2 separate regions of the Homo sapiens genome follow, and region 2 is linked to region 1. A link means that fine-mapping ties the variant in region 1 to the expression of a gene that starts in the linked region. Tissue or cell type: whole blood. Region 1 holds a variant in brackets; the other region holds the start of a gene. All regions are shown on one strand. Distances are from middle to middle.

What was found. PIP is the estimated chance that this variant, and not a neighbour inherited with it, causes the effect.
Region 2: NDUFC2 starts here. The variant in region 1 is fine-mapped to the expression of NDUFC2 in whole blood (TOPMed, PIP above 0.99).

What each region holds. Positions count from the first base shown.
Region 1 is chr11:78,098,329-78,106,431 of GRCh38, reverse strand. It overlaps ALG8 (ALG8 alpha-1,3-glucosyltransferase), which reads left to right. Exons shown (of 13, transcript NM_024079.5): 11 at 1,979-2,076; 12 at 2,380-2,452; 13 at 5,237-5,486. The coding sequence ends at 5,468. Among named protein-coding and RNA genes, the nearest start is that of NDUFC2-KCTD14, 23 kb to the right of the region's middle. RefSeq lists a silencer at 1,235-1,529. The variant C/T (reference allele first, on the strand shown) is at 4,691.
Region 2 is chr11:78,076,038-78,084,140 of GRCh38, reverse strand. NDUFC2 (NADH:ubiquinone oxidoreductase subunit C2) reads left to right here and starts at 4,279. Exons shown (of 3, transcript NM_004549.6): 1 at 4,279-4,562. The coding sequence starts at 4,397. NDUFC2-KCTD14 (NDUFC2-KCTD14 readthrough) reads left to right here and starts at 4,279. Exons shown (of 3, transcript NM_001203262.2): 1 at 4,279-4,562. The coding sequence starts at 4,397. It overlaps LOC105369401 (a long non-coding RNA gene), which reads right to left and starts at 2,946. Exons shown (of 3, transcript XR_950342.2): 1 at 2,700-2,946; 2 at 609-811. RefSeq lists a silencer at 4,107-4,296 and an enhancer at 4,500-4,559.

The DNA.
Region 1 (8,103 bases):
AGGTCAGGAGATCGAGACTATCCTGGCTAACATGGTGAAACCCCATCTCTACTAAAAATACAAAAAATTAGCTGGGCATAGTGGCACATGCCTGTAGTCCCAGCTACTCGGGAGGCTGAGGCAGGAGAATTGCTTGAACCCGGGAGGAAGAGGTTGCAGTGAGCCGAGATCGCACCACTGCATTCCATTCTGGGTGACCGAAGGAGACTCTGTCTCAAAAATGAAAAAAAGAAAAAACTTGGGCTTTGGTGTCATCCCGTCTGAAAATAAGGTCCCATGGTTCCTTGTTAAGTGTTGTTAGTCAAAGTAAGGATTTAGTCTATTCTGGAATAATACCTGATACTGTACTACATTTCAGATTTTCCAGAACTGTTTTTGTTTTGCATTCTTTCTTTTGCGCCTCACAATAATCTTTAAGATAATTGGCCAGGCATGGTGGCTCACATCTGCAATCCCAGTACTTTCGGAGGCTGAAGCGGTGGTTCACTTGATGCCAGGAGTTTGAGATCAGCCTGGCCAACATGGCAAAATCCCATCTCTACTAAAAATACAAAAATTAGCCAGGCATGGTGGTGCATGCCTGTAATCCCAGCTACTTGGGAGGCTGAGGCATGAAGATCCTTTGAACCTGGGAGGTGAAGGTTGCAGTGAGCCAAGATGGCGCCACTGCACTCCAGCCTGGGGCAATAGAGTGAGACCCTGTCTCAAAAAAAGAAAAAAAAAAAAGATAGTTAAAATAAATGGGTATTATTCCCTTTTTTTTCCTTTCTTTTTTTTTTTTTTACTTTTTGGTAGAGACAGGGTCTTGCCATGTTGCCTAGGCTGGTCTCAAACTACTGGGCACAAGCAGTCTTCCTACCTCAGCCTCCCAAAGTGCTGGGATTGCAGATGTGAGCCAACAAAACAGGCTTATTCCCTGTCTTAACATCTGAAGAATCTAGGGCTCAAAATGTTTGTGACTTGTCCAAAGTCATACAGGTCGCAAGAATTAGAGTTAGGACCTGAATCTTATGATGTTGAATCTATGATCTTTTCACTATGCCATGCTAAAAAAACCATTTTAAATGTAAGTGTCCAGTTTAGGCATAGTTGAAACCCAATAGATAAATAAATGGTAATAATAGCCTCTTTCTTTATATTTTTCTTGAATCTTGAGAAATCATTTAAGCTCTGAACATATATTAAGCAAATTTGTCAGGCCAGTATGTGGCTTGTCTGGGTTTATTTAGCAGCTTGGAGTTTCCAAATTAAAAAGTAAAGCAAAAACTTTTAATGTCTTTAGTCTGAATTCACACCAAACACCAGCAGGTGAAGGGCATTGTCCAAGAGATGAGCTATAGGGTTGGAAATGAAACTCCAAGTCCTGTTTCCCTGACTGCCACCACTAGGCAGCTCCCAATCCCACAACATTCCTGTCTTTGGAGAAGGCAATTACTCAGGGAAGCAAGATTCTTTTTTTTTTTTTTTTGAGACAGAGTCTCGCTCTGTTGCCCAGGCTGGAGTGCAGTGGCGCGATCTCGGCTCACTGCATCCTCTGCCTCCCAGGTTCAAGCAATTCTCCTGCCTCAGCCTCCTGAGTAGCTGGGATTACAAGCACCCGCCACCATGCCCAGCTAATTTTTGTATTTTTAGCAGAGACAGGGTTTCACCATGTTGGCCAGGCTGCTCTTGAATTCCTGACCTCAGGTGATCCTCCCGCCTCGGCCTCCCAAAGTGCTGGGATTAAAGGCATGAGCCACTGTCCCCGGCCAGAAGCAAGATTCTTTTACGATACCCCTGATTCAGTTTGATACATGCTATTGATTGCTTAAAATTTCCTACTAAAAAATTAATATTCTCAACTAAATTGAACTTGTGCCAAAATCAGCATGTTCTTCTATGCCTCAGCCAGTTCTAATGTAATAGGAGATGCAGTTTATTTAAGCTATTTGCAAGTGTAATAACAGTTGTTGTTTTAAGAAATTATTTTTATTTTTAGCCTTTTGTCTGTGGGAAAAGCAGGAGACGCTTCGATTTTTCTGATTCTGACCACAACAGGACATTATTCCCTCTTTCCTCTGCTCTTCACTGCACCAGGTAAACAGCGTCTTCTGAGAAAAATATATTTGACTATCACAACCTTTTCATCGAGGCCCACAGATTAATACATCTAATTTAAACAACTCTAAAATCTCTTGGATAGAGATCATTCATCCTCTTAAATAAAACCTCCAATTTCCTGTAATTCTCAGCATCTCTAGATGTCACAAAAATGTAAAATTAAACTTAAAAAGTATTATTAGCACTATATAGCTGTGTCAGTGTGCTTATATTACTTTCAGCATCATAAGTCTTTCTGTCATCAGCTAAATTATCTTTTTTTTTCTATTCTTTTAACAGAACTTCCCATTAAAATCTTACTCATGTTACTATTCACCATATATAGTATTTCGTCACTGAAGACTTTATTCAGGTAATCAAAAAAATGTTTAAAATTATACTTACTCTTGTGAAATGTTTACACCTAAGTGGTCAAATAAGCTCTTTAAATTTTATTTTTAAGTTATAACAGTAATATGACAACATTACAAAAAAAATTGGTAAATAGAGGGAGAAATCACTCAATCCCATCACTCAGTCGAGACAACATAGTTTGTGTCTTTAGTTTGGGGGAGTATTTGAGGAGGACTACTTAAATTAAAATCCTATATGAAAACTCAAAAACTGAATGTAAAATATGCTTTATGAATAAAACTATTAAATACAGATAGATATGGAAAAAACTAAAAGATACTATGTACAAATTTTTTTTGTTCGTTTTTTTGAGACGGAGTTTTGCTCTTGTTGCCCAGGCTGGAGGGCAATGGCGTGATCTCGGCTCACCACACCCTCCGCCTACCGGGTTCAAGCTATTCTCCTGCCTCAGCCTCCCAAGTTACTGGGATTACAGGCATGCGCCACCATGCCCAGCTAATTTTTTTTTTTTTGGAGACGGAGTTTCACTCTTGTCGCCCAGGCTGGAGTGCAGTGGCGCGATCTCCACTCACTGCAACTTCCGCCTCCTGGGTTCAAGCGATTCTCCAGCCTCAGCCTCCTGAGTAGCTGAGATTATAGGTATGCATCACTACCACACCTGGCTAATTTTTTATATTTTTAGTAGAGGTGGGGTTTCACCATGTTGGCCAGGCTGCTCTCGAGCTCCTGACGTCAGGTGATCCACTTACCTTGGCCTCCCATAGTGCTGGAAGTACAGGCGTGAGCTGCTGTGCCCGGCTAATTTTGTATTTTTATTAGAGATGGGGTTTCTCTGTGTTGGTCAGGCTGGTCTTGAACTCCCAACCTCAGGTGATCCACCCACCTCGGCCTCCCAAAGTGCTGGGATTACAGGCGTTGAGCCACCGCACCCAACTATGTACAAATTTTACTACAGAATTATAGATGGAAACTTTTTCTCTTCTAAACTGTATGTAATGTTAACTATAATTTTTTTTTTTTTTTTTTGAGACGGAGTTTCACCCTTGTTGCCCAGGCTGGAGTGCAATGGCACGATCTCAGCTAACTGAAACCTCCGCCTCCCAGGTTCAAGCGATTCTCCTGCCTCAGCCTCCCTAGCAGCTAGGATTACAAGCATGCGCCACCACACCCAGCTGATTTTGTATTTTTAGTAGAGATGGGTTTCTCCATGTTGGTCAGGCTGGTCTCAAACTCCTGACCTCAGGTGATCCACCGTCCTTGGCCTCCCAAAGTGCTGGCATTACAGGTGTGAGCCACCATGCCCGGCCAACTGTAATTTTTTAAAGCTTGCTTATGGTTCATAACTGTGTCCATAAAAACTTATATAATTAACTATGTTAAAATGCAGTTATAGCCATGTGACCCAGCAATTCCACCCCTATACCCAAAAGAATGGAAACAGGGACTCAACAGATACTTGTACATCAGTATTCATTGTAGCATTATTCATACTAGCTAAAAGATGGAAACAACCCAATGTCCATCAACAAATACATGATAAAGTGTGATATATACATATAGTGGATTATTCAGCCAAAGAAAAGAATGAAGTTCCAATACATGCTACATGAATGAATCTTGAAAACATGCTAAGTGAAAGAAACGAGAGAATAGAACAAATATCATATCGTTCCACTGATAGGAAATTCTAGAATAAACAAACATAGAGACAGAAAGTAGATTAGAGGTTGAGGGAACAGGGGGATGGGAAGTTATTGTTAATGGTTCCAGAGTTTCTGTTTGGGGTCACGAAAATATTTTGAAGGTGGATAGTGGCGATGGGCGCATATTATTGATCTACTTAATACCATCAAACTGTATACTTAAAAATGGTTAAACAAATAGCAAATTTCATGTTATATATATTTTACCAAAATAAAAAATATTTTAAAAATCTGGTGAAACCTTGTCTCTATAGAAAATACAAAAATTAGCTGGGCATGGTGGCAGGCGCCTGTAATCCCAGCTACTTGGGAGGCTGAGGCAAGAGAATCGCTTGAACCCAGGAGGTGGAGGTTGCAGTAAGCTGAGATTGCACCACTGCACTCCAGTCTGGGTGACAGAGCAACGCTCCATCTCAAAAAGAAAATTTTTTTTAAATCTTCAATTCTATATTGTTTCTCATGTTCTTATTCCAATGTCACAGCACCCAACCCCTTTACCTCTTTCAAATGCAGAACTAATTCTCTCTGAGCAG[C/T]TTGAGCTAAATAACAGCATAGGTCAATGGTGGAGTAAATTTAGATTGTTGAGATAATATAACGTATATAATTATCATTTTTTTCTAAATGTGAAACTTATTTTTTATTTTTATTTATTTTTTGAGACAGAGTCTCACTCTGTCGCCCAGGCTAGAGTGCAGTGGTGCCATATCGACTCACTGCAACCCAGTTAAAGCAGTTCTCCTGCCTCAGCCTCCCAAGTAGCTGGAATTACAGGCCTGTGCCACCCTGGTCGGCTAATTTTTGTATTTTTAGTAGAGATGGGGTTTCTCCATGTTGGCCAGGTTAGTCTAGAACTCCTGACCTCAGGTGATCCACCTGCCTTGGCCTCCCAAAGTGCTGGGATTACAGGCATGAGCCTCTGCACTTGGCCCTAAATGTGAAATTTAATATACTCTTGACTCTGGCCTTGGCTATAATAATTGACAGCAAGACAGTGCAGATGGGGAAGCTTTAGCTAGGAAATGTTTGCTAAACCAGGATGACTCATCTAAAATCAGACTTTTCTCTCTTTTTTCCTTCAGAAAAGAAAAACCTCTTTTTAATTGGATGGAAACTTTCTACCTGCTTGGCCTGGGGCCTCTGGAAGTCTGCTGTGAATTTGTATTCCCTTTCACCTCCTGGAAGGTGAAGTACCCCTTCATCCCTTTGTTACTAACCTCAGTGTATTGTGCAGTAGGCATCACATATGCTTGGTTCAAACTGTATGTTTCAGTATTGATTGACTCTGCTATTGGCAAGACAAAGAAACAATGAATAAAGGAACTGCTTAGATATGTGCCAAGCAATTATTTCATGGGAAATTAACCAGAACTTGAAGAAAGTTGCCAGTGGCATCAGCCATTTGTTTCAGTAGAACTGTTCAGAGCACCATTCTTCCACACTTGGTCTTGCCCAGCCTAGCAACCGGATTGTCACCATGGTGAGAAGCCACTGGCCCTCCATAAGCACTGAAACACATCTGAAAAAAACTCACCTTTCCCTATTAAAATTGTCTGAGATCGTTCAGACTGCTGTGCTTGCTCAAGCCAAACAGGGAATCTGATTAACCGCATAATTATTTGTAGCCTATGCTAACCATTGTGAGGATATAAAGCATAATTAGAATCCTGTGCTAAGGAAATATAAATGAAATGCTATTTTGTATGCACAAAAAAACTTCTGGATCGTTACCAGCTCCTACATTTTCCTCTTGGCGTGTACACAGGCAGATGGTGTACTGTCCCCATTCTGTACACCTTGTTCGAGATTTTTTTTGTTTGAAATTATACAGTGACAATACTCACAAAGCCAAGGGGAGTAGTTAAGGTACTGGTTTGGCCAGGCAGCAGAAACTACAAACCACAGCTACTTTACATTGATTTAAGGATATCTCGTGCAGCTCATTTATTCTAACAGCAAGCACTGCAGTTTTTATAAGGCAGCCACTTAAACCTTTCATCATGCGCAGGAACTGAAGTGATTTTTGCAGTCTGGTTCTTATCCTTTCCCTTCCTTAAGAGTACTTCATATACGCTTTTTATCCAGGACCCCAATTTGTGTAATATCTGCCACACATTCAGATTCAGCCAACGTTTATCTAGTCAACAGTAGGAACTTTCACACATTTTATTTTATTTCTATTTTTTTTCAGCCCTCAGGCAGAATTCATACATTTTATTTACCCATTATCCCCTAAGATCAGAGAGACTCCAAGGTCAATGGCATTCTGAGATGGAATCCAGTTATTCCATCTCTTCCGTCTACTCCATTTTCTAAGACTTCTTTTTGGTCTGTTATTGCAGAGACAAAGATGGGGATCTTGCCAAAGGGGGAGGGAAGCGTAGCGCCTCTAACCTGTTTTCCTGCCCACAGACTCTCCTCCACCCTGTGTTCCAGCTGGCCTAACAACTTCAAACTCCCCGTGTGCCATGCTGTCTTGTACCTCTGTTCCCTTTCATTCATGCTGCTTCCTCTCCTCTCTGCTGACTTCTACCCTGTCATCTGATTATATGAACCTCTTCAAGATTCAGCTTAACTGCTACCATGTCTGTCAATATAAAGGCAGAATGGTGTAGTGATTAAGAGTAGGGCCTTAAAGTCGTATGTCCTGGTTGTAAATCTTGCCTCCATCATTTTTTTTAAAATCTGTAGGCAGGTTATTTAACCATCTTTTATCTGAATGTTCTCATCTCTAAAATGATTACATAAAAGATTAAGAACACTGCCTGATGCATTTTAAGTGCTCGGTCAATAGCATTGCTATTTATGTGAATCTTTTCCTATCCCTCTACCTTCCCTCCTCCTGCAGAATTGAGTTGCTCCCACTGTGCCAGGAGTCTGCTGATACCATTAACTGCTGTAATACTGTGTTATGCTTGTTTACCTCTTTTCCCCAGGAGACTAGCAGTTTGAGACCACACTTGTCTTCATAGCCCCAGTTTTTAGCACAGTTGAATGAATGAATGAAGCACACCAAACCAGCCATGATTAAAACCTAAATATTTTACTAGTACAAGCATTAACACAAAGGACCAGTATAGTTCCTCACGTCTTTGCTGTTGTCCAAGCCAAAAAAAAAAAAAAGTAGAAGATGAATTTGGATGGATTTCAACCTGACCAAATTTACTTTTTTGGTTGTTATTATGAAAGTGATGTGATGTCAGAACGGGAAGAGCTCATCTAGTGTAGGGATTTCCAGAATGTTCTGTAGAGCACTGGAGGTTCTTCAGTGTTGCCTCAGAGGCCCTGGGCTCTGTCCATAGTAAATAGCTTTGATCTGTTTCATATATTCACATGGCTTCATATACATTTTCATTTGACTTCAAAGTCCAAATATAGCCTTAAAGCAGTTCAGCTGAGCACAGTGACCCACACTTGTAATCCCAGCACTTTGGGAGCCTGAGGCAGACAGATCACTTGAGCCCAGGAGTTCAAGACCAGCCTGGGCAACATAGTGAGACCCTTTGTCTACAAAAAATCAAAAAATTAGCCAAGCCTGGTGACATGCGCTGTAGTCCCAGCTACTCAAGAGACTGAGGTGGGAGGATCACTTGAATCCTGGAAGTCGAGGCTAAGTGAGCTGTGTTCACACCACTGTATTCCAGACTGGGGAAGTAAGCAAGACCCTGTCTCAAAAAAAAAAAAAAAAAAAAAAAAAAGTCAATGTCTTATATTACCGGGAGGGAAATGGCTCCAGACTCTGAAGAATACCTTGTTGGTGCCAACACAGACTAGAATCTAGACTTTTTGTCTAGAGCCCAAGATTCTTTTATTCTTTTCCAAACACTATACTTTGTAATCATGTTTTAAAACTTTACAGAGATATGGGTGGTTTTCAACAACAAATTCCTAAATTTCAGTCAATAAATGAAGTGCTGGTGGCGTGTGGTGGCTCATAGCGCTTTGGGAC
Region 2 (8,103 bases), 22 kb after region 1:
TTGGTTGATAAGGCACAGATCCTGAATTAACTTGTAATACTTGTCCGGTTTTTGGACAGGTAAAATGGGGGAATTGTAAGGAGAGTTTGGAGGCTTTAGAAGCCCATACTGTAGCAGACGAGAGATAATAGGCTTTAGTCCCTTTAAAGTCTGTTGTGGGATGGGACACTGGCACTGAGGGGGGTAAGAGTGATTAGGTTTTAATAGGATAGTAATGGGTGTGTGATCGGTTGCTAGGGAGGGAGTAGAGGTATCCCATACTTGTGGGTTAAGGTGGGGGGATACAAGAGGAAGAAGTGAAGGAGGCTTTGGGTTGGGAAGAAGGGTGGCAATGAGATGTGGCTGTCGTCCAGGAATAGTCAGGGTGGTGGATAATTTTGTTAAAACATCTCAACCTAATAAGGGAACTGAGCAGGTGGGAATAACTAAAAAGGAGTGCATAAAAGAATGTTGTACAAGTTGTCACCAAAGTTGGGGAGTTTTAAGAGGTTTAGAAGCCTGGCTGTCAATACCCACAATGGTTATGTGGGCAAGGGAAACAGGTCCTTGAAAATAAGGTAATGTGGAGTGGGTAGCCCCTGTATCGATTAAAAAGGGGACAGACTTACCCTCCACTGTGAAAGTTACCCGAAGCTTGGCATCCATGATGGTCCAGGGGGCTTCCAAGGTGATTGGGCAGCGTCAGTCTTCAGCCACTAAGCTGAGCAGGTCTGGTAAGGAGTCAGTCAGAGACCCTTGGGCCAGAGCTTTAGGGGCTGGGCTCTGGAAGTGGCTGCCGGGTGAGCTGGGCGGTCTGATTTCCAGTGGGTCACTGCACAGATGGAACATGGCTTGGGAGGAATCCTGGGCTGCAGGCATTCCTTGGCCCACTGGCCAGATTTCTGGCACTTGAAGCAAGATCCTGAGGGAGGAGGTCCTGTAGGAAAGCCTGACCACTGCAGCTTAGGCATTTTGAAGTTCTTGTGTGCCGGAGGTGCAGCTGGGTTTTGTCTCACAGCAGAGGCAAGTAATTGTAACTCAGAAATGTGTTTCTGCTTGGCTGCCTCTTCTCTATTATTGTACACATTGAAGGCGAGGTTGATTAATTCCTGTTGTGGGGTTTGAGGGCCAGATTCAAATTTTTGAAGCTTTTTTCTGATGTCAGGAGCTGACTGGGTGATGAAATGCATATCAAGAATAAGACAGCCTTCTGGCCCTTCAGGGTCTAGGGCTATAAAGCATCTAAGGGTAGCCACCAAACAGGCCATGAACTGGGCTGGGTCTTCATCTTTACCTTGGGTAGTTTCTTTAAGTTTGTCATAATTAACAGATTTGTATGCTGCCTTTTTAAGCCCTTCAACTAGGCAGGAAATCATGTAATCTCACCTAGCTATACCTGAGGAACCTGCCTGATAGTGCCACTGGGGATCTTCTCAGGGAACCGTCTGTAATACCTTCCTGGAGGCCTGGCTCATAATGCCAGTGGGTGTCTGTGTGGGACTAGGCTAGAGGAAACACTCTTTCCCATTCATCTGGGGAGAGGGTAGAAATTAGGATGACATTTAAGCCACTCCAGGTTAAATTGTAAGACTGGGTTAAATACTGGAATTCATGTATATATTTGGTGGGGTCTGACGAGAAGGAGCCTAAGTGTTGATTAATTTGGGAAAGGTCTGATAGAGAAAATGGTACATGCACTCTGACGATGCCCTCAGTTCCAGCCACTTCTTGAAGAGGAAATTATTGGGCAGGTGGGGGAGTATTTGCCGCAGAACGAAATTGTAAGCTGGACCAGGTGTGGGGAGGGGAGATGATAGAAGGGTTGTAGGGTGGGGAAGTGGAGGCTGAGGAAGAGTTGGAAGCTGATTCAGCCTGGTGGGGAGCGACCTGAGGAGGAGCAGTCTAGGGAGGAGGGTAGAAGTCAGATGGGTCGGTAGAAAAGAAATATTCAAAAGACTCACCGGCACTTCAGGTTGGGACTGAAGGGACAGGCGGGAGGGAAAGAAGGAAGATTTGCGGCAAGTCGCACTGGGAACAGAGATTAGGGAAGGAACGAAGTGTAAAAAATGCCTGGATGTAGGGCACCTCAGACCATTTGCCCATTTTATGACAAAAATTATCTAGATCTTGTAGGCTGGAGAAATCGAAAGTGCTCTTTTCTGGCCATTTAGAGCCATTATCAAGTTTGTATTGGGGCCAAGTGGTGTTGCAGAAGAAAATAAGACACTTAGGTTTTAGGTCAGGTGAGAGTTGAAGAGGTTTTAAGTTTTTAAGAACACAGGCTAAGAGAGGAAGAAGAAGGAATGGAGGGCTGAAGGTTGCCCATAGTAAAAAGGTAAGTTTAGAGAAAGGAGGAGGTTGAGACATGGAGAGAGGGGGGGTGGTACTTGCCACCCAGGGGAAGTGGTACTTGCCACCAAGGTGGAAGATCAAAACAGGTGTCCCCGCAGTGATCGAACACCTCTGAAATGTGGGTGAATAATCAGGCAGGCGTCCCTGCAGTGACTAAACACAAGGGAAGACAGTCTTCCCGAGTCCATGACCAGCGCCAGAGTTTTGGGTCCACAGATAAAACGGGTCTCCTCTGTCTCTACCAGACAGGGAAAGGAACCGAAATTAAGGGAAGGGAGAGACTGAAGGGTGGTGCCGAAATTGAAAGGAGAAAGAGGTTGAGGGATAGTGAAAGAGGTTGAAGAAGAGAGTAGAAAGAGGCCACTTACCCGATTTAAAATTGGTGAGATGTTCCTTGGGCTGGTCTGAGGACCCGAGGTCGTAGGTAGATCTTCCTCACGGAGCAAAGAGCGGGAGGACAGGGGATTGATCTCCCAAGGAAGGTCCCCCGATCCAAGTCATAGCACCAAATGTCAAATGCATCCGTGTGAAGAGACCACCAACAGGCTTTGTGTGAGCAACAAGGCTGTTTATTCACTTGGGTGCAAGTGGGCTGAGTCCGAAAAGAGAATCAATGAAGGGAGATGGGGAAGGGGTTGCTTTATAGGATTTAGGTAGGTAATGGAAAATTACAGTAAAAGGTGGTTGTTATCTATTGTTAGCAGGGGAGGGGGTCACAAGGTACATGATGGGGAGATCATAAGACTTATTGTCCAGAAGAAGAATGTCACAAGGATGGTTGATCAGTTAAGGTAGGGCAGGGACCAGTCACAATGGTGGAATGTTTGTTAATCAGTTAAGGCAGGAAGTGGCTGTTTTACTTCTTTTGTGGGTTTTTGGCTGCCCCAGACTTCTTGGCTCCCGCAGGCCATCTGGACGCATATGTGCAAGTCACAGGGGTTACAATGGTTGAGCTTCGGCTGAGAGGCCTGACAGCAGAGACTGGAAAATTGCTTAACAGAATTATAAATTCCTTCTTTCATTACTCAAACCTTTTTTTTTTTCTTTTTGAGACGAAGTTTCGCTCTTGTTGACCAGGCTGGAATGCAATGGTGCGATCTCGGCTCACTGCAACCTCCACCTCCCAGGTTCAAGCGATTCTCCCCCCTCAGCTTCCCGAGCAGCCGATTATGCTGCCTCAGCCTTCCCAGTAGCTGGGACTACAGGCACCCGCCACCACGCCCAGCTAATTTTTTGTATTTTTCGTAGAGATGGGATTTCACCATGTTGGCCAAGCTGGTCTTGAACTCCTGAAGTGATCCGCTCACTTCAGCCTCCCAAAGTGATGGGATTACAGGCGTGAGTGACGGCGCCTGGCCTCATTACTCAAACCTTTAGGGAACACCTCCTCACTCAGCCATGTGTAACGACGTGAAGACCCAGAGGTGAAACATTTTAGGGTGCTGCCTCCGAATCTGAATTTCAACAATAGACTAAAACGATCCAGTCCTGGGCTTCTCTAAATTCTTTTGTTGCTGGCCAGACCTTAATTTTAGGCTTTGGAGGGAGTGTCTATGCGAATGAACGACTGAAAACTCAGAAAACGAAAACTAGCTTTTATGGAATTTCAATTAATTACGTTTATCAAAACTACGCATCATGCCCATTTGTGGGTATTGGATGAAAAGATAAATCTTTCCAGAAGGGGCAGGGGAGGGAGAGGCAATTCTGGTTGGGGAAGTTGGGAGAAAAGAAAATCAGTATCTCCTAGTCTTCGCCCAGTTTGGCTCGTTTGGGGTACTCCTCGACCCCGCGTTACCAGGCCCGTGAATCCCACTCCCACCAGAGAATTAGCGCGGGCGGACGAGCAAAGTGAAACTTAGTAGCCCGGAACTTCGCGTGCCGGGTTCCCGCAGCAACACGTACCGGGAAGCGTTTGGGCGCTGCACCGCGCTGCGCCGTGCCCGTGAGTCCGGCGCGCAGAGGAGGAGGAGAAAGCTGACCGCTTAGGCCGGGGTAGTGGTCGTCGTGGTTTTCCTTGTAGTTCGTGGTCTGAGACCAGGCCTCAAGTGGAAACGGCGTCACCATGATCGCACGGCGGAACCCAGAACCCTTACGGTTTCTGCCGGATGAGGCCCGGAGCCTGCCCCCGCCCAAGCTGACCGACCCGCGGCTCCTCTACATCGGCTTCTTGGGCTACTGCTCCGGCCTGATTGATAACCTAATCCGGCGGAGGCCGATCGCGACGGCTGGTGAGTGCTGCGCGGCCGGGATCGGCTGGGAGGAGAAGGGGTCGTAGGGCTGCAGACTGGCCCGGCCGTAGGCCCCCCTGAGGTGCTCTGCTTTTCCGTGCCTTTTTGCCTAGCTGGCCCCATCTCGCCTTTCCGGGGAGTCCGCGCCCCATTAGCTCTTTAGAATCAAGCAGAGCCAGAGTGTCATTTGGCACTTGAAGAAACTGAGGTGCAGTGAAGCAGGAACTGAGTCTGTGAAGGACCCGAAACTACTCTCCTCAGTTCGTGTTGTGCTGTGTGCGCAAATGAGCCATGACTCCATGCCATGCACTACTCACACTGTGGGCATTATTGATAGCATTTCGGCCTTAAAACACTTTTAGGGATGTATTATTCACAACGAGGAAACCGAGCCTAACAGATTAACAGCAGCTTGCCCAAGGTCATATGGCTATTAAGTAGCAGAGCTTGGTTTTTTTTTTTTTTGACCTCTGAATGGATATTGGACACCAGTGCTTCTCAAACTTAATGTGCATACGAATAGCATAGGTGTCTTGTTAAAATTCGGATTCTGGGCTGCGCGAGGTGGCTCACACCTGTAATCCCAGCGCCTTGGGAGGCCGTGGCGGGCGGATCGCCTGAGCTCAGGAATTCGATACCAGTATGGGCAATAGGGCGAAAACCCGTCCCTACAAAAAAATACAAAAGTTAGCCGGGCGTGGTGGTGCACGCCTGTGGTCCCAGGCTGAGGGAGGCTGAGGCAGGAGGGTCGTTTGAGCCTGGAAGGCAGAGGTTGCAGTAAGCCGAGATTGCACCATTGCACTCCAACCTGTGCAACAAAGTGAGACCCTGTCTCAAAAAAAAAAAAAAAGCGGATCCTGATTCATGAGGTCTGGGGAGGAACTTGATGTTAACAACAAGCGCTCAAACACTGCTGCTGCTGGTCTGAGGACCACGGTTTGAATAGGAGGCTCTAAACCAGTGTGCTGTACTTCCCAGTAGTATGTCACTGGCTTCCTATCAGAGACACTGACTATTCTGATAATAACCACCACAGTAGCTTTGCTAAGCTCTATGGATTTCCAGAGGGAAAAGAGGAGAGGAACTTTGGAAGAGGGGTCTTTGAAGTTAACTTTGATTATCAGGCAGGACTGAGAGACAGACAGCTTTCTAGGCCCGTGGGGCTAGTGGGAGCTAATGGGGGCAAGGACCTCTGAATGGAGGGTGTTTGATGATTGAGTGAGTGTTCAGGTTTAGATAAAACTGCAAGGGAGATTTTAGCAGAGCATGGCAATTTATTTTCTAGGCAGTCAGGAACTTTGTAAGCTTTTGAGAGCTGCAAGGGTGCAGTGATGAGCTCTGTATTTTAAAAAGTCATCTTTGTCAGCAATGTGAGGCGTTGATTGGAGCCAAGAAGCACAATCAGGAAAAAAGCTCAGGCAATGGTTCAGGCAATTAGGAGTCACCACACTTGTACCTCTTTTGCCTTCTTACAGCTGTATGTCATGCCTGAAGGTCAGCTCCCAACCCATCAAATCCCACATTTCCAGTGCTCAAATAGTATTGAAGTCCTATCTCCCTTGGACATAACTCCTCACTTCAGAAAGGAGTCATCTTTGTCCGTTTATGCCTCTGAGGACTCGAGGTTTTCCCTTTTCATCACCACTTCATATTTGCCCAAGACTGTCACTTGGTGTAATGAAAAGAGCTCCACTTTGGAACTAAACAAACTTGCTCACTAGGCACAGGCACTGTGGTTCACACCTGTAATCCCAGCACTTTGGGAGACCAAGGCAGGAACATCTCTTGAGGCCAGGAGTTCAAGACCAGCCTGGGCAACATAGTGAGACCCTGTCTCTACAAAAAAATTTAAAAAATTAGCCAGGCATGGTGATGTGCACTTGTAGTCCCAGGTACTCAGGAAGCTAAGGGAGGAGAATCACTTGAGCCCAGGAGGTTGAGGCTGCAGCGAGCCACGATTGCACCACTGCACTCCAGCCTGGGCAACAAAGTTGAGACCTTGTCTCCAATAAATAAATAAATAAACAGACTTGCTCTGCTGCTTTCCAGCTGTGTCACTTTGGGCAAGTTACATGGTCAGGTCGATCAGAGCCAAAGTTTCCTCATCTATAAAATAAGAATAATTAATTTTTGCATATTTGTTGTGAGAATTGAGTGAGATTCTGTAGGTAAAATGTCTGACATGCAAAAGGTGCTGGACAGAGTTCCCCTTCCTTAGCTCTTGTTATGCAAACAGTTTACCATATATTTGTAAATTGTTCATTTACAGAACCCTTTTTTTTTTTTTGAGACAGGGTCTCACTCTGTCACCCAGGCTAGAGGGCAGTGGTGCACTCATGGCTCACTGCAGCCTCGACCTCCTGGGCTCAGGCGATCCTCCTATCCTAGCCTTCCAAGTAGCTGGGACTACAGGTACATACCACCAGGCCTGGCCAATTTTAAAATTTTTTGTAGAGATGGGGTCTTGCCATCTTGGCCAGGCTGGTCTCAAACTTCTGGCCTCAAGTGATCCTGCCACCTCGGCCTCCCAGAGTGCTGGGGTTATAGGTGTGAGCCACTGTGCCTGGCCTTACTTAACTGTTTCTCTGTTATGTGCCCTATGGAGCTCCTAGTGAAATCAGGGAGACAAACAGGTAAACAGCCTGTTGCTGATCTTGGTATGATAGATACATGTTTTGATAGAGGTGGGTGAGCAGAAAGCACTTTAGGAGCACAAAGGAGATACAGTTGGGAGGGAGAATGCTCTAGAGGAAGTAAAGGTTGGCTGAAATGTGACGTATGTACCACTTAATCTCGTTGTTAGTTTAGCCGTTTGTGCCTTTCTGGGAGACAGAAGAGTATAGCAGTTAAGAGCATATGCTTTGGGGTTTGACATCACCTCCACCCTACTAGTAATTTGATTCTGAGGAAGTTACCTATCTCTGAGGACTGGATGAGATAATGAATATAAACTGCTTAGCCCAGGAGTAGGGATCAGACTTCCTGAGTTCCCAGAGCTTCCCTAAATTGCTTTGGAAGATTTAGGTCCTAGGACTTTGTTGAAATGGTTGTCCTCAACAGCATTTACTGAATGCATATTGTGTTTATCTAGCTCAGTGTCTAATATCTATAGTAGGTGTTCAGTAAGTATTGAGTGAGGTCACGTGTGGTGGCTCATGCCTGTAATCCCAACATTTTGGGAGGCTGAGGCGGGTGGATCACCTGAAGTCAAGAGTTCAAGACCAGCCTGACCAACATGGTGAAACCCTGTCTTTACTAAAAATACAAAAATTAGCCAGGCGTGATGGCACATGCCTGTAATCCCAGCTACTCGGGAGGCAGAGGCTGGAGAATTGCTTGAACCTGGGAGGTGGAGATTTCAGTGAGCCGAGATTGTGCCATTGCACTCCAGCCTGGGCGACAGACTGAGACTCTGTCTTTAAAAAAAAAAAAAAGTAGTATTGAGTGAATAAGTATATGTAGATTACAAGGAATATAAAACATGGTCCCAATCCTCCAAAGGTTTACAGACCAGATGGCCATATCCATTAAAAAGACAAAT